Regions from separate parts of the Homo sapiens genome. Here region 2 is linked to region 1. A link means that fine-mapping ties the variant in region 1 to the plasma level of a protein whose gene starts in the linked region. Region 1 holds a variant in brackets. A gene starts in the other region. All regions are shown on one strand. Distances are from middle to middle. Region 1 has its middle 140 kb from the start of FAM30A. Region 2 holds the start of TDP1 (tyrosyl-DNA phosphodiesterase 1).

What was found. PIP is the chance, under the fine-mapping model, that this variant and not a neighbour inherited with it causes the effect. Protein levels are from antibody-based Olink assays in UK Biobank. Linkage for the fine-mapping came from a reference panel and not from the study's own genotypes, which makes the PIPs less certain.
Region 2: TDP1 starts here. The variant in region 1 is fine-mapped to the plasma level of the TDP1 protein (UK Biobank, PIP above 0.99).

The regions. Positions count from the first base shown.
Region 1 is chr14:106,050,926-106,059,557 of GRCh38, reverse strand. It overlaps IGH and the pseudogene IGHV3-6. Among named protein-coding and RNA genes, the nearest start is that of FAM30A, 140 kb to the right of the region's middle. The variant G/A (reference allele first, on the strand shown) is at 5,117.
Region 2 is chr14:89,951,059-89,959,690 of GRCh38, reverse strand. It overlaps TDP1 (tyrosyl-DNA phosphodiesterase 1), which reads right to left and starts at 3,764. Exons shown (of 17, transcript NM_018319.4): 1 at 3,721-3,764; 2 at 2,891-3,113. EFCAB11 (EF-hand calcium binding domain 11) reads left to right here and starts at 4,961. Exons shown (of 6, transcript NM_145231.4): 1 at 4,961-5,105; 2 at 5,690-5,785. The coding sequence starts at 5,031. RefSeq lists enhancers at 1,198-1,706, 4,732-5,232 and a silencer at 3,437-3,666.

The DNA of each region.
Region 1 (8,632 bases):
GTAGAGCACATCTGGCCCTTACCCACACTATCTCTTGTGTCCCCTGGGAAAGAGCAGAGATTTGCCTGACTGCAGAATCTGGGGTAGGAGTCTGCACACCTCTGAGCCTGCAGAGAAGCTCAGCGAAGTTTTGTGGAGTCAGAGAGCTTTCCCATGTGGGGAACCTCTAGCTTCCTCACTCTCGGAGATTACTGGTCAGCTGTAATTGAGTGGTTAAGAATTAGAGCACCTGGGAGCCTGTCTCATCACAGCTCCATTATGTAACTTACCACCATTAGACTGCGGGTAATAACTCAATCTTGATTTTTCTGACCCGATTTTCTCATCTTATTCATTACTAATTTTGTTTATGGAAAATGTTATGTTTAGTTTATGATTAAAACCTCAGAACTTTCTGAACTTATCAGGAATAATACAAAATGTGTCCAGTTTGGGGGAAATGTAAATGAATGTCCATGCAGTTTGGGTGTGTGTGTGTGCGTGTGTGTGTGCATGTGTGTTTGTTTGTGTGTGTGTGGATATGTCAGTCACTTACACCACAATGAACATGATTGCTGAATTACATAGTCAAACTAAAATTAGATTTGCTGAAAATTGCCTGCAGCGATGTCTGTGAAGCTGACCCTGTCACTTTGCTGTGAAGAAACTCAGTGTACAGGCGAGGTTGCACGGGAGAGCTAAAAGCTTCAGCACACAGGACAGGCTGAGCTCCTGAACTGGAGCCAGGCACAGGACTGAGCACCTGAGAAACAGAACCCCCAGCCCTCCTTTATCTGGGCTGGATGGGCACCAGAGGACCCGCAGGAGATGCTCAGAACTCACACAAGACAGAGCCTCAGTGAGGAGCAGAGGCAGCGAGGAACCAGCCAGGGAGCCTGTGACCGCCACCTCGGGTTGTCTTATTTTGCTTAACAGCATCCAAACCTCAGGAGACCATTTATTACGTTATTTAGACCTCACGCCCTTTCTGTCCCGAAGTAAAACAAACATAAATATGACTCTGCAGTTAGCTCTTTGAACCTGGGTTATTTTTCTGAGAATGTCATCTTCGTCATCAACATCATGGTCATCATGTCAAAATCAACAGGCAAATCCAGTCACCGTGAAGACAGTTTCATGGCATGATTCATACACAATCATTCCATTCTACAGAGAATCTCTTTCAGATTCTTAAGGTGGATTAAAGTGTTATATTTAATTGCCAATTGTGAAATTGGTGGAAGACATTATACTAAAGGAATTGTCTCTGACCTCTCATGGGGTCATATTTCCAGAAAATCATTGTGATCCTGAGTGTGAGCTGACTTTCCAAGTGTTCCCAACCCTCCTCCAGATGAGATGCTGGTCTGTGTGTTCTTGCTCCTTCCCCTGGGGCAGATTCCTCTTGTTTTCCCCAGTTGTTCCCTCCCACAGCTCTCATAATCTCTGTTGGTGTCCCCAACTTCCAGATCTGCTGCCATGACCTGCAGATTAAAGCTCTGATTCCGTAAGAAAGTGAGGGGAGCTGCTTCTCAATAGAGCTTTGATGGGAACCTCTGTTCATACCTCAATTCTTAAGGGGCTGCACCAGTGCCCTAGGATGCTGATTTTCATGGCTTGCTCCTGCAGGGTAATATCTTAGTTTTGTAGTGGGGATCAGAGAACTGGGTCTGGATGCATTTCAGAAGTGTGAGCTCATTCTCTCCCAGACAGATACTATGGGAAAGGAAGATGTTTTGCAGGGGTAAATGATTCAAGAGATTAGGGCAACTCTCCAGTATGAGGTCCCTTAGAATTTCTCACTATAACATGCCTAACACACTCGACTTCAAGCAATCCAGTGTATATTTGTTCTTCATCTTGTAATAGCCTACATTTTATATGACAGCCTCTGCCTCAGGGAATTTCATACTCTGGCTTCATTACTCTCTACAGGAACTTGCCTCTCCCTAGATTTCAAATATTTTGTTTGTTTTCAACCCTCAATTATCTGAAGCATTAAGTAAAATTTGCAAACTTCCATCTTTTCTGTTTATCTGTTATTGTTGATACTATTGTTGTAAGAATGAATATATGGGCCCGGTGCGGTGGCTCATGCCTGTAATCCCAGCACTTTGTGAGGCCGAGGTGGGTGGATCACGAGGTCAGGAGATCGAGACCATCTTGGCTAACACGGTGAAACCCCATCTCTACTAAAAATACAAAAAATTAGCCAGGTGTGGTGGTGCGCACCAGTAGTCCCAGCTACTTGGGAGGCTGAGGCAGGCGAATGGCGTGAACCCGGGAGGTGGAGCTTGCAGTGAGCTGAGATCGCGCCACTGCACTCCAGCCTGGGTGACAGAGTGAGACTCTGTCTCTAAAAATAAATAAATAAATAAATAAATAAATATGTGTGTATATATATATATTTCTCATCTATGTACATTTTTAAGCTTAGCAGCATATTTTTTAGTGAGATCCAGAATAATAAAAGAATCCAAACATTTTTCAGCTGCCTAATAGAGAAACAAATTCTGGTAAATTTTTTCACTGGAATACTACTCAACATTTATAATAAATATATTTCTGGTACACAGAACAACAAGGAAAAGTATCTAAGTATTTATGCTGAGTAAAATAAGCCAGACAAATAAGAATATGTACTATATTACTCCATTTATGTAATTTATTTCAAATGAAAAAAATCTAAAGTAATATACAAAAGATGAGTAGTTACCTGGGAAAAGGGTAGAATAAAGGAAGGGGAAATGTGGAAACATACAGAAGAACAAGAGAAAATGTTGAGGGGAACTCACTTGTCCACCTCAGTAATGATGACGCTTACATCATGTTTTCAATTCTACACTTTAAATACGTGAAGTGTATTATCTGCCAATTAACACTCACAAAATTTATTGCAAGCAAACAAATGAAAAATTAGACCAAAAGCGGTGGTATAAAGATACAAAATATCCATTAAAAGTCAGAAATATCTGAGAATTTACCTCCTGAACCCTAGTTCTCTCCTTATTTTTAGGTGAATGCTAGAGTGCCACAAAAATCACTCAAGTTCTCAATACAGGAAGTGGGTTCCACAAAGCACACTAGGCATGTCCAATTCTTACCTGGAGTTGGTTCAGGGAGTAACTGGGGCCACTGATGTGGAGCACAGGCCAAGCTACCAGGGCTCATTCATCTCAGACATGAGACACACACAGCCCCTCCTCCATGTGTGGGTTTATTTCACATCTGTAAATGGAGAAACCATTGACTTCTACAGAACATAATTTGCACAAATATGTAAAAATATAATAGTGCAAAATGTTTATCACAACACATTTTCATAATAAGACAGTGTATTTCCCAAATACCATAATTGTCACCCAACTCCTGCGGGGCCCTGTCATTTTATCTGGGGTCTGCCGTCTCCTCAGGGTTCCCACCCCAGAGCTCTCTGTGTAGCAGGAGACACGCAAATAGGGCCCTCCCCATGCTGATGAAAACCAGCTAAACCCTGACCCTGCAGCTCTGGCAGAGGAGCCTCAGCCCCGGGATTCCCAGGTGTTTCTGCTTGGTCAACACTGAACATACAGGATTCACCATGGAGTTGGGGCTGAGGTGGGTTTTCCTTGCTGCTATTTTAAAAGGTGATTTATGGAGAACTAGAGCTATTGAGTGTGAATGGACATAAGTGAGCGAAACAGTGGATATGTGTGGCAGTTTCTTACCAGGATGTCTCTGTGTTTGCAGGTGTCCAGTGTGAGATGCAGCTGGTAGAGTCTGGAGCAAACTTGACAAAGCCTGGGTGTCCCAGAGACTCTCCTGTGCAGCCTCTGGATTCACCTTCAGTAGCCATAGCACGCACTGGGTCCCCCAGGCTCCAGGGAAGGGTCTGCAGTGGGTCCCAGTTATTAGTGGTAGTGGTAGTACCATGTACTACGCAGACTCTGTGAAGGGCCGATTCACCATTTCCAGAGACAATACGAAAAACTCACTGTATCTGCAAATGAACAGACTGAGGGCAGAGGATGCAGCTGCATATGACTCTGTGAGAGATACGGTAAGGAGAAGTCAGTGTGAGCCCAGACACAAACCTCCCTTCAGGGTACCTGGGACAACCAGGGAAAGCCTGGGACACTGTGCACTGTGCTGACCCCAGGGGCAAGTGCAGGTGCTACAAGGGCTGGGTTTCCTGTCTTGATCTGGGGCTGCGTTGTTACCAAATTACCCGAGGGAACTTCTCTAGATTTGCAATTCTGTACTAACATTTGATGTCTGTGACTGCTAAACTTCCCTCACATATTTGTTTTTTGTTTGTTTGTTTTGTTTTGTTTTTTGTAACAGGAAGACCCATCCTCACCCCTACAGAAGCCCGAGTGTCACCTTGGGGGCAGAAATGACCCTGCCTTGGTCACATTGATCAGTGTCCTGAGGAAGCCCAGTGGAACCTGGGGAGTGTTTTCCAGTCAGGCTCAGGGCAGAGACCTCCGTGGAAATCTCTGATTAGAATAGGTTTGGGATTCAGACTTGGGCCAAGAGGGAGTCTCACCCATGGGAGGGTCCTTAAATCCTGACAGTTTTTACAGCTGTTCTCCCTCCTCTGGCAAAACTGTGCACATCTGACTCAGAACTGATCCAGCTGGCCCTTACTTGCTAATCAATTTTTCTTCTCTCTACACTTCATTCTCATAGTTCCCTTTTCTTCCCTTCCCAGAAAACAGAGAGTGTGTTTTCTGTGGTCTAAATCTCAGGGCTCAGGCCTGTTACCTGGAACTCAGGTGTGGCCCAGGCTGTGGCTCCTGTGAGACCTGGGGAGGCTGAGGGGACTTTCCCACTCACCATTGCCTGGACCCGCCTGCTGTCTTCTGTGCATGGAGGCATTTGGGAAATGAAGTGGACATTAGTCACTGAGGGGATAATGGTAGCTTTCTCAAATGAGATACTGATGTAGAGCTGATCTTCTGTTTCTCACACTGTCACAGAATTTCCTCCTTCATCTGTGACTTTGGGGAAAGCTAAGGATGGACACTCTATTGTGCTGTGAGCTCTGGGTGACAGCAATTGGAGGGTCTGGCTAGGCAAATCCTACAGGGTTTCAGGTCAATGGAGTTGGAATTTCTGGGAAGACCTACACTGTCATCCTCCATGGAGTCCCATC[G/A]TCATCTCTTATGCTCTGATGGAATCAGCCCCACCTAGGTTATCTAGGACAATCTTCCTGACTTAGGAAAAAAATGATGGCAGGCTTTACTAACACTTATATTATAGGATCAGTACAACACCTAGGTTAGTGTGTAACTGAATAAATGACTCTATGAGTCAAGGGGACACATAAAATTGATTGTTGCCATGACATTTATTTATTTATTTATTTATTTATTTATTGGAAACCAGAGTTTTATTGTTACTGAAATGAGTCTCGCCAAGCATTCAAGAATGGGATTTTTTAAGGATAGCTTGGTGGGTTGGGGGCAGCCAGTGAGTCATGAGTACTGATTGATCAGGTCAGAGATAAAATCATAGGGAGCTGAAGGTGTCTTGTGCTGAGTCAGTTCCTAGGAGGGGGCCACAAGATCGGATGAGCCAGTTTATTGATCTGGGTGATGCCAGCTGATCCATCAAGTGCAGAGTCTGTAAAATATCTAAAGCATTGATCTTAGGCTTTATAATAGTCATTTTATCCCCAGGAGCAAACTAGGAAGGGTTAGAATTTGTAGCCACCAGCTGCATGACTCTTAAAACATAATTTCTAATATTTTGGCTAATTCGTTAGTCCCCCAAAGGCAGTCTAGTCCCCAGGACGAAGGAGATTTGTTTTGGGAAAGGGCAGTTATTGTCTCTGTTTTAAACTATAAACTAAACTAAGTTCCTCCCAATGTTAGGTAAGCCTACACCCAGGAATGCACAAGGACAACCTGGAGGTTTGAGGCAAGATGGAGCAGGTTAGGTCACAGCTCTTTCACTGTTTCAGTTGCAGCTTTGCAGTGGTGGCTTCAATTCCTCCCTTTGAGTTTTGACCTTATCGACTTGTTTTGTTTCTCTTTAAGTGATGGTTTTATAACCATCTATGAAACTCTAACAGGTGCTCTTACATGCAGATTTCTGATTAAAAACTCTGAAGATGGTTACAATAGTATAGAGATAAAACTATCAAATAGAAGACTATCTTTTTTGACTTTTCACTTAAAATGTTGCCCAAGAAAACTTTTCTTTTGAGCTATTTATAGCTTTCAACAATTGAGTATAGTCCTGTACATAAAATTTGGAGAATATTTGTTTCTCTCTGTCCACTTTCTCCAGAATTTGGAAACTCTTTGTGAATATCCTTAACTTATGGCAATATGATTTTTCATAAGTGCAGTAAGATTTTTTTTTTTTTGCAACAGGACACAATTGGAGAAACTGGTTATTTTACCAAGGCTTTGACTGTAATGGCGTGCTTCACCTTAAGCAATCGAACTTGACTTATACAGCCAATAAGAGCCCCTTGGGAAAACTGGCCTGTACCTTGTCCACACAGTCTTTGTACAAGGTTCCTGACCAGTGGTAAGTAAAGAATGTCACTTTCTAACAGGCCCAAGAACCCCATGTTTTCCTGGGACCCCAGAGGAAAAATAATTTACCAGACTTACAGGTATTTGATGGTAAAAACTCATGGCTGGGCTTGGCTTTAAAAAAGTCTTATCTGAGATTCCTTATGGAACAGAGTTCCACCAAAGCCAATTTTAAAAGCCTGTGTAAACAATAATTATTTGTATTGTGCTTTATGCAAATAATAAGGCCATGAATAAGACTAAAGTTTATTTTGCAAATAAATCAGTCCTATCTTGATTTGTTTTAAATAAAAATGGGGACAAGAGAGAAAAAAATTATGCTTTAAAAATATAGTACACCTGTTGTTTGCTGTTCTTGTTTTTTTTTCTTCAGCAGTTTGGACGAAATTCTAAATTATTTGTAGGCTACAAAGCCATAAACTAATGCGTTCAAATCTTTACTTTTAAAACTGCGAATTGCACTCCTTACCCTAGTTCTCATTATGTACTTTATAGTATGTTGTTCCCTCAAATGTGGTGCTAGAATTATAGATGACAGCACTGACAGCTTTGCCATGCAAGCCTTGGAACCCCAGGCAGGCCTGCGTGAGTACACTCAGACAGTTGCAATGAGGTTCCAGTCCTCTTATCTTGAGGTCAGCACCTACCCCTACTACGCCCCAGGTCATCAATAAAAAGTTGTAACAGTCTTGGCCCTTCTTACATCTTCATTATCCAACACCATGATTTTTGTTTTTTGCCAAAACAATTGCCAAATATAGTCATAATCATAGGATAAATAATTTTGCTGAAATATATGTGTTATTATTGGTCTTTTGAGATGGAAAGTCCAAGACTGGATTATGCTTTCATGCATTTTTCATAAGAAGTACTTCCACTCTTTTGACAGGAAATGCACAGGGGGTGACATGTGGCTGCAGAAGCTGATGGCATATGGTAGAAATCTGTCCCTGAGTAAAGGAGAGATGGACGGAGGATTGGGTGAAACATTCTTAGGTTTCTGTGCTGTGCAAGGAAGGTGTAAAACATATTTGAGTCTACTACAAGTCAACATTACCCAAGGGGGAACCCCTGTGACTCCAGCAATGACTCTGCCTCAGAATCACTAAAGAGTCCTTCTTTTCATTAGAGTGGACCACAGGATCTGGGCCATAGCATAGACGTCAGAAAGCAGCAGCTTGACACCTGATCCATGTGCATTTTCCTGCCTTTAAAGGGAGGGAGAGAGGTGTATTCTCAGGGTCAACACACTCTTTGTTGATTTTTACACAGAACACTGGCATTTACTTTATTTCATTGAAAGATATATGAACAGATGTGTGTCTGCAAATGATTGTAATTTTCACATTTATTCCAATTGCATAATTTTTAAATTCTGCTTGATGTCCTGGCACACAGTTGTGTTTTCTATAGGTATTTTTCAATAAATCAAGAAAATACATTTTCCACTTTCACTGGCTTTTCTCCATGTGCAGAGGCCTTGAGTAGATCATGTCTGACTATTAGTCTGTTTTCATGCTGCTGATAAAGACATACCAGAGACTTGGAAGTTTACAATAGAAAGAGTTTTATTGGACTTACACTTCCACATGACTGGAAAGGCCTCACAATCATGGTGGAAGGTGAAAGGCACATCTGACATGGTGGCAGACAAGAGAAGAGAGCTTGTGCAGGGATCTCCCTTTTTACAATCATCAGATCTCGTGAAACTCATGCAGTATTACATGAACAGTGCTGGAGAAACCCGCAGCCATAATTCAATGACCTACCACTGGGTCCCTACCATGACACTGGGAATTATGGGAGTTAAATTCAAGATGTGATTTGAGTGGGGACACAGCCAAACCATATTATTTTGCCCCATGGCCCCTCCCAAATCTCATGTCCTCACATTGCAAAACCAGTCATGCCTTTCCTACAGTCCCCCAGAGTCAACTTGTTTCAGCATTAACTCAAAAATCCACAGTCTAACATCTCATCTGAGACAAGGCAAGTCCCTTCCACCTATAAACCTGTAAAGTCAAAAGCAAGTTACTTCCTAGAAACAATGGGGGTACTGGCATTGGATAAACACACCCATCCAAATGACAGAAATTGCCCAAAACAAAGGGGCCCTCTGCAAG
Region 2 (8,632 bases), 16 Mb after region 1:
GAGGATAAAAAATAAAACAAAGCTTTAAAAAAGACATTTTCTAGAGAACAAAGCCTTTTTTTGGGGTTCTGCTCTATAAAGTTTTGGACCTGCTGAAACTCAAAAATATGCCTGAGTTGCTTATTACAACCTAATACAATTTATTGGGTTACAATTTAGTGCAACAGACTAATAAAATTGTGTCTTGTTGTTAAATGTAGCAGCTTACCAACCTCTTTATGACATCAAGGCTCCCGCCCAGTTGGAAAAGAACTGCTAGTAAACACCAATATCAAACTTTTACTTTGGATAACTGGTCACCAGTAACAGAATTTACTTCCCTCATAGAGGCTCTGGTGCCCAGCATTTCAGAGTGCTTTGTAATCAAGTCATACAGTTTTAAGAAATGTAGAACCTGAGAGCTTTCCTTCAATTGTTTATCATCTGTCTTCCCTGCCTGGGCAGTGCTTGGTACAGCATAAATCTGAAGTCACACTTTTTGTAAGTGGTACTGAAAGAATCAGAATACAATATAGCTGTGTTGATTCTGAATCCTGGCACTCAATCAGAACGGCACAGTGTTTCCTGAAGTGGAAGTGATTGGGACCTGACATTATGAAAGTACTTCCCTTTCCATTCCAATCCAAACTCCCTGTTTAAATCAAGAAGAAAGTTGTAGTGTTGTAGAAATGCTTTTAATCTTGATTTTGAACAAATAGCAGGGTTTGGGCTCTTCTGCAGGCACCAACAATTTTGTTTACCATCAACAGAAGGTATCTTATGGCTACGTTATATTTGAAATAGCAAAATAAAGTTTATTTTATGTAAAAGAATGATTGGATTCAAACAAAAATATTAAGTATATGATAGTCTATGTGATAGCGGCAGGAGGCAGACAAATCCCTAGGCAGATAGGGGCAGGGCCCCAGTGAAACCCCACCTGCAAACCAAAGACAGTTTAAAGCCTGAAAGCCAAGCTACAAGTGTTGGGTAAATCCACGGACCGGATTGATAACCCCTCTTCCCACTTGGCACACTTTCCTCTGATCAATCCCCACCCTTCACCTACTTTACATATATCTACCCTTCCCTAATTGGTTTTTTACATTGTCATGCCCACCTTTGAGTGGTGCCTTTGTTTTAGCCTTTTTTGCATACTCACAAACCATGGAGCACACACTCCCTCATTCTGAGCCCATAAAAGCCCCAGACTCAGTCACACCAGCGAACTGCCCACCTTGGGGTCAGGGCAGGGGCCATCCACTTGGGGTCCCGTCTCTGCTGAGAACTGTCTCATCACTGAGTAAAACTCACCTCCGCCCTTTTCCCCTTCGGTTGTCAGCCTAACCTCATTATTCTTGGACGCAGGACAAGAAATTCGGACCAGCTAAACAGCGAGTGCAAATAGAGCTATAACCCTGTAGCACTCCGTTCCGCTAGTGAAGCAATGGGAGAGGGAGCTGCTGGCTGCCACACACCCCCATTCATTGGGCTGCAGATGGTGGGACTAAAAGAGCTGTTAATACATCTCTATTTGCCTGGTGTCTCCAAGTGTTTGGGCACTACTGCATCCCCCTCGTCTGGACACCAGAATCTGCTACCAGAGTCACTTGCCATACACCCAGGCCATCCACAAGCCCTACATGGAGCCTGTGACTGGGCCAGCACTTGGAACAGCCAGCCGGGCCTCCAGGCTTGCTCACTCACTCACAAACCGACTCCTCGCGGGCTGAGCATGCAGTCATAGTGGCCACGGGATCTGGGCGGGGATGAAAGACAAATGCATTCTGCCAGGCTGAGTGGGCAGGGCACCTCCTGCAGCCAGCCCAGGGCTGGAGGTCTCCAGCTGGCAAAGCGGCCCTGAAATAAATCCTGTGTCATGTGTTAAGAGAATAAAGCAAACTGGGGAGAAGGCAGGTGAGTGTGAGTGAAATTTGGCAAACACTGCACTAACATGAAAAATCTAAGAAATCTTCCCACCAAATGCTAGCTCAGGACACTGTTAGCACTTTTATTAAGGACTTTAAAACATGTTGTGGATATAAAAGGGTACTCCATTTAGAGCTACTAGTGTTTCCTCACTCCCCACTATATGAGACCCAGCTGGGGCATTTCTCTTTCACCTCCAGCTGCTCCTTCTCATTGAGCTTAAAGACCATCAGCTGGGCCTGGAGGCCATGCTCCTCAATTGAGTTCCTGTGTGGCCAGTAATAGGCAAACATGGTCCCTTGTCTCAAACCCGGCCATGACTAGGGAGTAAATGTGCACTTGGGCAGGTTAGTTAACTGCTGAGCCTCAGTTTTTTAGTCTGTGAAATGGATATCATGCTTACCCCCTGGAGTTCATTCATTCAATAACTTACTGGGCAGCTATTATGTACCAAAAACTGGGAATGAGGCGTTAACAATATAGTTTCTACCCTAGCAGAGCTAATTTCAGGGCAGAAGAGACAGACCCACACATAAAAATTTTAATAGCCAAGATGAGTTAGACATTCATTACATTTTATAAGTATGAGACAGAAAAATAGGGGTGACCTTTGGAATATACTTAAAAAGTAACATATAAATGAGACCCAGAGGGCCAAAAGGAACCTGCTGTCTAAATGATGGGGTGAAGAGCATTCCCAAGTAGAGGGAACCCAGCCGGCAGAGGTGGGAAAGAGGTCATAAGAAAGGACTTAGGCAAGGCAGGCAGTGGTCCGAAGCGGGTGAGGGGAGAAGACTTGTTAAAGAAATTGGATTTTATGCAATGATCAATGGGACCCCACTGAGGGCTTTAAGAAGGGGAGTCCGATTTACATTTATTTTTTTGAGACAGAGTCTCGCTCTGCCGCTCAGGCTGGAGCGCAATGGCGCAATCTCGGCTCACTCCAACCTCTCTGCCTCCCAGGTTCAAGCAATTCTCCTACCTTAGCCTCCCGAGGAGCTAGGATTACAGGCATCCACCATCACGCTCGGCTAATTTTTCTATTTTTGTAGAGACGGGGTTTCACCATGTTGCCCGGGCTGATCTCAAACTCCTAACCTCAAGTGATTCAGCCGCCTCGGCCTCCCAAAGTGCTAGGATGACAGGCGTGAGTCACCGCGCCCGGCCTTCGATTTGCCTTTTTAATACAGCTGTGTGCTCCAACTCTGCGGAGAATGGGTTGAAGACAAAGGAAGTGAGAGGGCTCTTGCTGAAGGCGTTGGGGACGGAGCAGATTCAGAACGTGAGGAAGTGACGGCAGCAGCTGCTAACCTTACTGCGTGCTCATTTGGGGCCGGCCAGGCACGATTCGAAGCGCCTCACCAAGTGTAAACTCGCTTCACCCTCAGGACAACTCTATACTACGTACCGTGACCGTCCTCCTATACTGGGAAACCGAGCACAGAAAGCTTAAGCGCCTGGCACGTGGTGGGCGCTTTCCTACTCACTTTCTGGGACCACGCACCTGTAAGCTTAGGTCTGGGAATAAAAACCCGAGCAGGGGCCCCTAGCGCCGCGCCCCGGCAGGACACAGGTCTCCGCAGCGCCCGTGCGCGCCCCCTGAGGCGCTGTGATCGGAGGAAACCGAGGCCCCGGGGCCGAGGCGACCCTGCCCCATCTTCCCGGCCGCGCCGCTTCCTCGCGGTCCGCCTCCAGCCCTGCCGGACCCCAGCAGCCCGCGCACCGCGACTCGGCCAGGAGCAGGATCCCGGGCCCGACCGCAGCCCGCGAGAGACCGCACCGAGTCCGCGCCCACTGCCGCCCAACACGTACCTGAGGCGCACAGAACCAACGCTTGCCTCGGATCCCGCCCCTTCGGCGGCCGCCGCGCATGCGCGCAGTTCAAACCCTGGCGGCAGCGGCTTGTGCCTCGAGGCCCGGCCCCTTCCCCTTCCGGAGAGCCCACCGCTGGGTCCTAAAGCCCGCCGGGTGTTTACCCAGGACGGGGCTGGGGAAACCTGGTCTCTCCTAGCTCTTGGCTTACTTCCTGGAGACTTCTTAAAACGAGAGGAGAACCAGAAAGGCGTCCCCTAACTTCGCTCTAGTTAACTAATAGCAAGACTCACCCTCTTTACAGGATTCTCATGGCTCAGGCTCCCAGGGCTCCATGCAGCGGCGTTTGGTTTAAAGTGGAGAGAGGATACGCTTAGGTTAAAGGCAGCTGCAAGGAGACCTGTGTCCTGGGAGGGGCTGGGTGCAGACTTTGAAATCTGCTGCAAAATAAAAAGTTAAATGAGTTCCCATTGGACTCAGAACCTCGAATGTCTGTTCCTTCTTCGCAACAGTTGCGTTCTCGTAAAATCTTCTGAGAAAAGGAACTCGCCCCACGTTCCTTGCCTTTAATAAGGATGTTTGCTGTGGGATTTGGGCTCGGTGCTGTTTATGGTATTTATTCTTGGAATCTCTTTCACACTAGGCATCTCTTCCAGAGGACTGAGTGAAATACATCTGTGTAAATATAACGGCTCGTTTCGTTCTTTCATTGAAGATCTACTTTGTGCCAGGCACAGTGCTAGGTGCTGGGATTATCTTGAGGACATAACAGATGTAGTAGCTGCCCTAGGAGCTCGATCCCAATGACTTGCTGATCTGAACGAGAATCCTGGACTTGGCTCTTTTCGTTTGGTTCTTCTTGTTTGTTCACAGTCTTTTTGTCTCCTATAACGTTTAGCATAGTGTCATAGATCTAAATGATTAAAAGTAACCTATTGCAAGATGGAGGGAGAGAATGAAATAAATCATGAACCAGGCATTGAACCAGCACCTAGAAGCGCTTGGATTTCCAGCCGCGCTCAACGAGTTAAGGGACAGTCAGGGGGTGGAGCCAAGTGCTGGGGGCAGGCCTGGGCGCCTCACTGCCAGGGCGGCTCCAAGGAAACGTAATTAAACAAAGACTCTGGCCAATAGCCCTGCGGGATTAACGCGAGTGGCTGGCAGGTTGTCCAATGGGAGGAGACGTCGGAGTTGCGCGGTGAAGTTCGGCTTCCTGAGCCGCGGTGGGCGTGGCCGCGGTAGGCTGCCAGCCAGGCTGGGAAAGCGGTGGTAGCTGGTTGGGTTGCTGGGGCTCGGTTGTTGTAGTCGCGATGTTCTTCTCCGAGGCCAGAGCCAGGTCGCGGACGTGGGAAGCCAGTCCCTCGGAACACAGGAAGTGGGTGGAAGTAGGTTTCCGGAGGGCGACTGAGCCTCGGACTTCAGCTTGGCCTGGGCCTCTCGCTTCCTCTCCCGTGTCTGGGTCTCACTCTGCCGGGTGTGCAGATAAGACCTGGGCTGCCTGTCCAAAGGGTCGTGGTTAATGACTGATCCTGGAGCTGCAGGGCTCCTGGCTCCCCGTCCAGGACTACGGCTACCTCCAAGTTCCATCTCCTTTCTCTCTATATAGTCTATTAATGGTAACCTTGAGTCTGCATCTCTCCCGCCTTTCAAAGCCAGCCCCTTTGCCTCACCTTCCTAACTCCAGGACTGAATTTTGGGTAGAATTTATCTCAGTGGCCTAAATGAATTAATTTGCGTCACCTAGCGGTTAACTCGTTTGCACTTTGAGGGAAATTTCAGCCCATGTTTAAGAAAATTTCAGTCCATCTTTAAGATTTCTTGAGAATTAATATTGGGATAATGAAATTCTATTTTCATACTCTACCGCTGGGCCAAGTTTTAGATTTTCGAGGTCCAAACTGTATAATAAACTAGTAATAAAAATAAACCATTTCTGTCTCATTAACTAAAGCTATTTAATGTTCTTCAGGTATTTAAAGCATGTGATGAAGATCACAAAGGATATCTCAGCAGAGAGGACTTTAAAACTGCTGTTGTAATGCTGTTTGGGTACAAGCCCTCCAAGGTAGAGCTTTCTTATATATTTGGGGATGGGGTAGACGATCAAAGGTGAATGGATCCTAAGAAAAGTTCACAGGGCTAGCTTAGGATGTTTATAAATTGCTTTATAAGCAATTTCAGAGATGTGTCCAGTGCTGAATTTTAGCTTCCTCTTAACACCTCAGCCCAGAGATGAAGTAGAAATCTTTTCCACTGGAGTCTACACAAGCCTATCTCACCACCAGGCTGCTAATAACTACTATAAATACAAGATGCTAGAGAGGTGCCAAGAGGGAAGACTGAGAGGGGAGTGTTGGTAACAGGAGAAATTTACATAGGACATGACATAGTCTCTTTCTCGTTTTACTTTTGTTGCTTTGTTTATAAAATACATCCACGGTCAAAAAATTAAAACAGTGCAGAAAGGTATAAAGTTGAGCATAAAATCCGCTCGCCGCCTACCAGAGGGTCCCACTCCTAGGGGATTACCATTAACAGTTTTTTTGTGTAATTCTGAAATTTTCTATCCATGACATACATATGCATAGTCTTTTATTGAAAACATAAATGGGTAAATATTGTGCCTACTTTAACTTGCTTTTCTCATTTAACAATATATCAACCTAAAAGCACACACCACTACTGCATTTTAAAATATGGTTGCATATTCTTTTTAGCCAGGTTCCTGTCTGGGGTTATATAGGTGGGGTTTTTTTTTTTTTTCTGCCAACATTGCTGCAATGATACACACATTTATGTCCTTGTGGCTGTATATCTGTGGAATAAGTTCCTAGAAGTATAACTGCTAGGTCATGGAATATGTACGTTTAAAATTTTGTTAGATATTTGCTCTCCAGAAAAGATTGCACCAATTCACCAATAATGAGAGTTGAGCTGAGCCTCCATGAACCTCCTGCTTGAGTAGGGCAAGTTTCCTGCTCACCCCTGTCTTTATGCTTTTCTGCTTTCCTGTTACATTCATTCGAGAGACAACACCCTTCTTGTTAAGCTGGAATTAGTCAGAGTCAAGATATTGTCCAGATTCAAGAAATTGAGCTGCCACCATCAAGCAAAGGAAGCACTCAGAGCTCAGCCTGGAATGCCATCCCTCACTCTCATTAGACCAGACAGCTTGGCAGTTAATTAGGGCCCAGCTGTTCTCCTCATGAGTGGACTGTGCCTTTCTGTCAGATTGAAAGCCCAGCAAAGCCAGGGACCCTGTGATGTCATGCCTCTCCGCCCTATTTGTGTCAACAGAACATACTTACTGTGAAGTTGTGATGCACAATAAGTATTAATATATTCTCTTGACCCAAGTAGGTTGCATGAACAGCTCAGGTGGGTTCAGAGTGGCTCAGCTATGAGGGGCTGCCTAGTTACTGAGAAGCTTATTATGGAGCTCAGAGAAGTAGTCAGGGCTGACTCTTAGAAATGGCAGCTCTCCTGTTTACCTGTAATCATTTCAGTTGGAATTACAAAGCAGGTCAGCTGAAAAGAGTCAGCCTGTGAAGCATTGTATTTAACTTGGATTCACCTGGAAAGGTATCTTGTCTCATTTTTGCCTTTATCACCCTTGAGTCTATTTGGTTTCAATTTTAGAATGAGGAATTTAATGACAGATACAGTGATGTAACATACTGTACATACACTCCATGAAATTTAACAGATTTTACTTTTCATATTGAGGTGAGGTTTTCTATTTTATTTTTTAAGCAAATGAACTATTTAGTAACCGCAGGTCACTAAACGGTATTTACTAATAGCATGTCACCTATAAACTTAGTCATTTGTACAATGAACTTTTATTATGCAGGTGACACTTAATTTCTGTGAAATTCAACAGATTTTTTTAGACTAGGTTGAGGTTTGGGGTTTAATTTTTTAATATTGCTTTTGAGCAAATGAAATATTCACTGACTGCAGGTCATGAAGCAATAAAATACTTATATAATAAATCACTTATACATTCATGCAGTTTTTTACATAATTAAGTTTATTTATTTGTTGAGATGCAGTCTTGCTCTGTCACCCAGGCTAGAGTGTAGTGGCGTGATCTAGGCTCACTGCAACCTCCACTTTCCAGGTTCAAGCAATTCTCCTGCCTCATCCTCTTGAGTAGCTGGGACTACAGGTGCACACGACCATACCCGGTTCTTTTTTTTCTTTTTTTTTTTTTGTGTTTTTAGTAGAGATGGGGTTTCACCAATGTTGGCCAGTCTGGTCTCCAACTCCTGACCTCAAGTGATCCGCCCACCTCAGCCTCCCAAAGTGCTGGGATTACAGGCATAAGCTACTGTGCCCACCCATACACAATGAAATTTATTGTTTCTATTTAATAAAAGGAGTACTTGCTAGTTGCTAGTGATATAAAGATGAATGAAACACAGTCTCTACTTCGAAGCAGTTCAGAGTTTAATATAGAAAGACATAAAACTGTGATAGATACCAAGAAAGAGAAGAGATTGAAAAACAAAGTGAAGGGAGCAAAGAAGGAAGGCCTAATTCTAGTGGTAACTATAACAGTCTGGGTGGTCATTTAGACTAGAGAAGATAGACTACTCTGATAAGTATCTAGGAACACTTTGTGGGTGGTGGGACAAGTTAGGCCCTGATGACTGATTGGATGTGGTGGTGGTAAGAGTGACATGACCACTGGGACTGAAGGGATAGCAATGCCACCAATTAAGAGAAAATTTAAGAGTAGGTTCAGAGGAAGTCAGTGAGTTTCGATTGGAACACATTGAGTTTGAGGCAGCTATGAGCATTCCAGGTGCATTCACTCGTTAAATAATATGCTGGCTATTGAGGTTATGGTGGTGAAAATCCACCGTTAGATTTTACTGCTTCCCTGAGATGTAGCAATCTGAAATTG